Linked DNA regions of Homo sapiens. The gene in region 1 interacts genetically with each later gene. Each region holds a gene or a part of one and is shown on either strand. Other genes may lie near its edges.

Region 1 (3,821 bases):
AAATCTTCAAGCCCCAACCAATGGATTTGAGATTTGCTTGATGGGCCAATTGGATGAAGAAGTCACTCCATCTGTAGATTCTCTCCCTGGGTTCTGGACTTGGACCTGCTGGTCAGGTGCACATGTGAAGAATTACCATCCCTCCCCAGCTAGTAACAGTGTAGTGGAAATAGCAGGAACCTTGGAGGGAGACAGGTCTGAAAGTTGCCTGTGCAACTTAGTTCTTTCTTTGTGAGAAGGAAATTTCCATTCATTTCCTTATCTGGGAAGTGGGGATTCTAATGTCTGCCTCCCAAGGTTTTTGTGAGAATTAAAGTAGAGAATGTAGGTAAAATGATAGCAAGTTTCCTGATAAGTAGTGGTAGGGATGAGTTAGTACCTTCCGTCCTGGAAACCACCTGTGGGCCCATCTTGAATGATCAGTGTTATGTTAAATTCATATATTCTTTTCCACACTTTGATTAGAATAGTTAAAAAGCCACAGTCTAAATATTCTTGGGTGATAGGATATTGCAAAATTTTCCAAGGGTCTAAAATAGTGGTCTGCAAACTATGGCCTCTGTGCCAAATCAGGCCTGCCACTCCATTTGTAAATAAAGTTTTATTGGAACACAGCTCTGTCTATCATTTGAATATTGTCTAGGGCTGCTTTTGCAGAGTTGAGTAGTTGTGACAGAGACTGTGCAGCATACAAAGCCTAAAATATTTTCTCTCTGGCTTATAATAGAAAAACATTGCCAACCTCTGGTCTGAGATGATTTGCTTGGTTCTTCAGGCATTCATTTCCTTAAGATACTCAGTATCAGGCCGGGTGCGGTGGCGGGCGCCTGTAATCCCAGCACTTTGGGAGGCCAAGGCGGGCAGATCACGAGGTCAGGAGATCGAGACCATCCTGGCTAACATGGTGAAACCCCGTCTCTACTAAAAATACAAAAAAATTAGCTGGGGTTGTGGTGGCAGGCCCCTGTAGTCCCAGCTACTCGGGAGGCTGAGGCAGGAGAATGGCATGAACCCGGGAGGCGGAGCTTACAGTGAGCCGAGATCGTGCCACTGCACTCCAGCCTGGGGTACAGAGCGAGACTCCGCCTCAAAAAAAAAAAAAAAAAAAAAAAAGATACTCAGTATCCTGGGGTTGTACATTGCCAACACCAATGGGAAATAAAACTTGCAGCCAATTCATTAAATAATTTGTACAATGCCCCAAACTGATTTGATTGAATTTCTTCCTTAAAAGTGATAGAACTGTGTATAATAAACTGAACTCCATTTGTTAGAAAGTGAACAAATTGGACAGTTGCTTTTTATTGTTGTTGTTTGTATTAGGGAACAATCTACATGCTAATGAAAGGCAGGCTTGACTGATTTTCTTTGGACTGGCTGATTGTCTTGGTGTCCTGTGGACTTGGCCTTGGAACAGGAAATAATTCGTATCAGATTATTATGTCATGGATATGCCTTTGCTTTCAGACAACTTGAACAGAGCAGAGATTTAGCAAACAGAAAAATTAAGGACTTAAAATTCTCATCAACATAGAACTCTGCTCTTCAGATGTACTCTAGGGTTCCACTAAAGAGCCAATATTGTTTGGGAGGCAGTTAAAGATAAGTAAAATGTGTACTATGCATATAATTTTTGGAAGCCTATCTCCTACATAAATTTAAGCACAACTTACAATGAGAGGTAATTTAGGTTTCTGGACAACCTCTAATATTTCTATTCTATGTTACAACCTTTGCTTATTTAATAAGCCTAGTGAGCACCTTTACTTCTTACCAAGTTGATTCCATTGATTCAGCAGTTCTTTTTTTGAGATAGAGTCTTGCTCTGTCACCCAGGCTGCAATGTAGTGGTGCAAGATCAGCTCACTGCAACCTCTGCCTCCAAATTCAAGTGATTCTCCTGCCTCAGCCTCCTGTGTAGCTGAGATTATAGGCACATGCCACAATGCCCAGCTAATTTTGCATTTTCATTGGAGATGGAGTTTCACTATGTTGGCCAGGCTGGTCTCGAACTCCTGACCTCGAGTGATCCACCTGCCTTGGCCTCCCAAAGTGCTGGGATTACAGGTGTGAACCACCACGCCTGGCCAATTAAGCAGTTCTTGCTGTTAAGGGCAAGTAGAATCCAAAAGAGAGACACAAATTCACGTGCACTGTCTGGAGGTGAAATAAAGGACAAACATCAACCAAATACACAGATTTAATTGGTAAAAAAGCAGATGATGTTCTTGATGGATATTTTACTTCCTGCCCCTTATATTTATTTACTAAAGAAAATGCCAGATTTGTCCCCAAAGTTACTGACTCAGAAGTTTTGAAAGCTCTCTCCCAATTCACACTTGGGATTCTGTTCTTTCATGAGGAACCAAAAAAAAAAAAAAAAAAAATCAAGTTTGCCTACAGCTGTTCATTAAATATGTGGACATTTAATTCATAAAGAAGTCTTATAAATATTTGCTTTTAACTTTCCCATTACAAAGTGTTTTTTCCCCCTTTGACATCTTTCTAAAGTAGTTTATCTTCCCACTTAATGAAGATGTCCACCTATTTCTTATTCTGAGCCAACCAAACCAAAGTTGGCTAATTGATTATGAACATTAACATAATTCTCACCTTTATGAAATGCTTAATAACACTCTAGTTTTCTCATTTTTGTAGAACTGCTTGACAACTAAGTGAGCCTACCTGGGATGGGGAGGCCTTCTCTGAAACCCTCTTGTCCCGCTTGTGTGATACTGGGGACAAGCACTTGTAGGCAGGAGCCAGGGGTTTTACTTTCCATTCTACAGATAATTAGATGAGAGACCTTAAGCAAGCCACCTAACCACTTTGGGTCTCAAATGTTCTAGTGCTGGAATGGAACTTGCCTTTTCCTGGCTAATTTTCCTGGAGATTGAACTTGATTGAGGTTCTTTGCCAGCTCTAATTGCTGAGTTTTCCTGAGTGTTTATACAAAAAATAAATTAAAGTTTAAAATCAGAAGTCCTTAATTTAATAGATGGGATTCTTCTATCTGCTTAGGGCAGTGTTTTTATACCTTGGCTACACACTGGAATGCTCTGAGGAGATTTAAGAAACACAGATGCCTGGATCTCAACCTAGAGCTTCTGATTAAATTGTCTTGGGCATTGAAGGAGAGCTGCAAATGGCTCCCAGGTGAGAAGGCTGAGAACTGCTGACCTGGAGGTTGAAATGGATGGCTTCTAATAAACCTTTGGGCATTGCTAAGAGCAGAAGAATGCTCAATCCTTTTAACAGTGATAAACAAACATCTCTGGGGAATGGAGAACTTATTTGGTGCTATGCAGTATACAAAATGTTCTGTTGGATCAGTTTGGATTACATTTGATTGCTGGTGAAGAGACCTGAAATAACGTAGATTTAAGTAAGACAGTGGTGTCCTTTCTCTCACATAAAAGAAGTCCACAGTAGGGTGTTCAGGATCTTATGGAGTCTCACAGTGCCAACATCATCCCAGGCTCCTTTTTCCTTTCTAATCTGCCATCCTTGGCATGTGGCTCTTGTCCTCAAGATTTTTTTCATAGTTGCCATTGTAACTCCAGCCATTACATCTGTGAGCATCACATCTTCGGACAAGCAAGAAGAAGAAAAAGGAATAGCAAAAGATCATGCCTCCTGATCGCTGCCCCTTCTCCCTCCCAACACACAACTTCTGCTGACATCTGATGCCATTTCTATCTACAAGGGAGAATAGCATAATTGTTTAGCTGGGCACATTGCCACCCTCCATAATGCAGGGGCTGTTAGAAAGGAAGGGAAGGTGGATGTTGAGTGTAACAACTGCCAGTCTTCACTATGCT
Region 2 (3,821 bases), on another chromosome or scaffold:
TGAGTAAGTTACTTCTCTAAATATTACCACTTACCTTCTAGTGAGGAAAGAAAGAAACAGAATTACAAATTGTGAAGTGTACTGTAAAGGAGTCAAAGTGCTGAAGAGACCAGTGGGGTGGAAGGGAGACCTGGTGTCCAAGGATAAGGAGCTCGCCCTTTGAAGGGGGAAGGAGTACATCTTAGATGGAAGATGCAGCCAGATAAAGGCCCCATGAAGTAGGGATGAATTTGGACTGCTCTAGGACCTGAGGAGTGTTGCTGGAGCAAATGGGTAGTAGAGAGAGACAGGTTGAAGAACTGTGCAGAGGGAAAGAGAGGAGAGATGCTGTGAAGTGTTAGCTGATATTAGCATCTGGCTGTTGTTCAAGGAGATTCTAGGAGAATACCTAGAGCAATATTAGGACTTTTATTTTCTAAATGTAAACTATTTTGTTGACATTTAGCCTAAATACATATGGAAAAAGTGCTCAAATCATGTGTACAGCTTGACATTTTCACAAAAGGAACGCTATTGTAACCACCTCCCAGATCGAAGAAACAAGGAGCCGCCCCCTTCACAGGAAACCACCTCTTGACTTTTTACACCATAGATTTATTTTGCCTAATTTTGTGCCTTATATGAATGGAACAGTAGAGTTTGTACTCTTTCATTCTTTTGTTGTTGTTGTTGTTGTTTTGTGACAAAGTTTCACTCTTGTTGCCCAGGCTGGAGTGCAATGGCACAGTCTTGGCTCACGGCAACCTCCACCTCCCGGGTTCAAGCGATTCTCCTGCCTCAGCCTCTCGAGTAGCTGGGATTACAGGCATGCACCACCACACTTGGCTAATTTTTTGTGTTTTTAGTAGAGATGGGGTTTCTCCATGTTGGTCAGGCTGGTCTTGAACTCCCAACCTCAGGTGATCTGCCTGCCTTGGCCTCCCAAAGTGCTAGGATTACAGGCGTGAGCCACTGCGCCCGGCCTGTACTCTTTCATTTCTGTTTGGCTTCTTTCACTCAACATTATGTTTTTTTGTGTGATTAAGGAGTATTATTTGCTTATCCATGACAAAGTTACCAGCTGAATAGCCATGTGTCCCAGTACTTCTTATTTTATTTTATTATAATTTTTATTTTTATTAGAGACGAGATCTCACTATGTTGTCCAGGCTGGTCTCAAACTCAAAGGCTTTAGCAATCCTGCCGCCTCGGCCTCCCAGATTGTTGGGATTACAGGTGTGAGCTGCCACACCTGGCCCTTCTTTTGTTTTTTAAGTCTTATTCTTTTCCCTGACCATCTCAAATACTTTCTGACCAGTATTTCTAGAACGATTTTTTTTTTCCTTAAATCTTCAGGAGGCTCAGCGTGGCGGCTCACGCCTGTAATCCCAGCACTTTGGGGAGGCCGAGGCTGGTGGATCACTTGAGGTCAGGAGTTCAAGACTAGCCTGGCCAACATGGTGAAGCCCTGTCCTTGTCTCTACTAAAAATAAAAAAATTAGCTGGGCATGGTGTCATCCCCCTGTAATTCCAGCTACTCGGAGGCTGAGGCAGGAGAATCACTTAACCCGGGAGGTGTAGGTTGCAGTGAGCCGAGATGGTGCCACTGCACCCAGCCTGGGCAACAGAACAAGACTCTGTCTCAAAAAAAAAAAAAAAAAAAGTCTTCCAGAACTTTAGGTTTAATGTTACAGACAAGATATGACCAGAATAAAGCTGGCAGAAACCTTCCATTAGGTTTGTGGTTGCCCAGTCATGTTTGAACTGACTTGTTTTTTTTGTTTTGTTTTGTTTTTGGTTTTTTTTGCTTATTCGTTTTTGTTTTGAACAGGGAGTCCGGGCACATGGAATAAACTAGAAAGAGAAAAACCTTTGGAGAACTAATTATATTTATAAAACAGATCTTGCCAGTGAGAAATATTTTCTTAAGGAGTTTAATGCCAGTCTTGAATTTTGTAGAAAATATTTCAGCGTACTTGGTATAGTTATTTATTAGTGTCACATCGACCACCTTGGTCTAGTGATGGTTGATACAGTAAATATAAGTGTATACTAGCTTCTCTGCAAAGACTCTACCTTGGAAAGATTACTTCAATAATTTATTTGACAAAATGAAGTAATCCTCTCCCTGTTAAAAACTTCTTCCTGGTTTCCTTCCTTTGTATTTCACATTAAATTTTGCCCTTTTGAATTTGGCCAGAACTCAGGCTTGTTGGGTAAGGTAGCTTTACTTCTAAAAACTTGTCAAGGGCCCTGATTTAGCTTTATTAGAACAACTTCGGATATCTTGTCTATACAGACGTTAGTTAATTTTTGCAGACTGTATTCTTTTGAGTTTGTGAGGGGAGGGGGGCTATCATAAATTTTGTTAACTTTTAAAATGTTTAAGATATTTTCAGCCGGGTGTAGTGCCGGGCGCCAGTAATCCCAGCTACTTGGGAGGCTGAGACGGGAGAATTGCTTGAACCTGGGAGGTGGAGGTTGCAGTGAGCTGAGATTGCACCACTGCACTCCAGCCTGGGCGACAGAGCGAGACTCTGTCTCAAGAAAAAATAAATAAGATTTTTTTTTATAGTATAAAATAAAATGTCTACAAAATATGTAGTTTTTTGTGAATAGGCTGGTTTTAAGTTTCCTGTAAGTATCCATCTATTTGAGGAATTTTGAGAAAAAAAGTGAAAGCAAGGAGAAAATCAGCTCTTGAATTCTGTATTTGATGTTCTGTAGAAGTTACTAGCAATTCATTAACAGAAAATGTGGAGATATGATAAAATGTGCATTAAAATTTTTAAGTGTAATATTTTTTGTTGCCAATAATTTTATGAAACATTGGAGAGATACCGAAATCCCTCCTCACCCCCAAACTATTATTTATAATCTGATTACTAAAAAGTAACCATCATAGACATTTTGGTGTAGTCTGGGTGTGCTTCACATTTTTTTGTTTTACTCAGCCAAAGATATTTTAAAGTTAGTTTCTTTGATCTGACCTAAATTCTTGTAGTTCTCATGATTATCATCTCTAAGAACTATATATGTTTGAACTGTGTACTGTAATTTCAAACGATGGAATTTGTGCCGACAGTCTCTGTTTCTTGGAGTTCTTGATGCTTTGTGTGCCTGTAGTTCAGTGGTCCCATCTCTCTCTGGTTTCTAATTCCAGGCTTGCTCTCCCTTTGTCTGATCCTGCATCTTAAACCATTAAACTACATTCTGCAGTTTGGATGTCCTTCCAGTTTCTTTTCTGTTTCATTACATGCTACATACATGCATACATACATGAAAATATATACATCAATGTGCATATCTATTATACTTACCTATTTTTTTCTTTTAACCTAAATGAAATTGTAATCTGTATATTCTGTAGCTTTTTTTCTCCCCCCAATTTGTTTTTTGTTTTTTGTTTTTTTTTGAGACGGAGTCTCGCTCTGTCGCCCGGGCTGGAGTGCAGTTGGCCTGATCTCATCTCACTATACCCTCTAACTCCTGCGTTCAAGCAATTCTCTTGCCTCAGCCTCCCTAGTAGCTGGGATTACAGGTGCCCACCACCATGCCTGGATAATTTTTGTATTTTTAGTAGAAACAGTTTCACCATGTTGGCCAGGCTGGTCTCCAACTCCTGACCTCAAGTGATCCACCTGTCTCAGCCTCCCAAAGTTGCTGGGATTACAGGCGTGAGCTACTGCTCCTCGCCTCTCTCCCCCCACCCCGTTTAAACAGTTGATTCTTACATGTTAGTAAGTCTGATGTATGAGTCCATTTTATTTAAAGAAGGCAGCACACAGTATTCTGTTGTGTGGACCATAATTTAACCACTTTCTTAGGATAGGGCTGTTTTC

What was found.
Region 2: of POU2AF1 (region 1) and SIAH1, changing one suppresses a phenotype caused by changing the other (phenotypic suppression), as found in Homo sapiens cells (one study listed by BioGRID).

The regions. Positions count from the first base shown.
Region 1 is NC_000011.10:111,372,683-111,376,503, reverse strand, and holds part of POU2AF1 (POU domain class 2-associating factor 1), read left to right. Parts: intron 1-3,821. UniProt on the Homo sapiens protein: Transcriptional coactivator that specifically associates with either POU2F1/OCT1 or POU2F2/OCT2. It boosts the POU2F1/OCT1 mediated promoter activity and to a lesser extent, that of POU2F2/OCT2. It recognizes the POU domains of POU2F1/OCT1 and POU2F2/OCT2.
Region 2 is NC_000016.10:48,375,212-48,379,032, reverse strand, and holds part of SIAH1 (E3 ubiquitin-protein ligase SIAH1), read left to right. Parts: intron 1-3,821. UniProt on the Homo sapiens protein: E3 ubiquitin-protein ligase that mediates ubiquitination and subsequent proteasomal degradation of target proteins.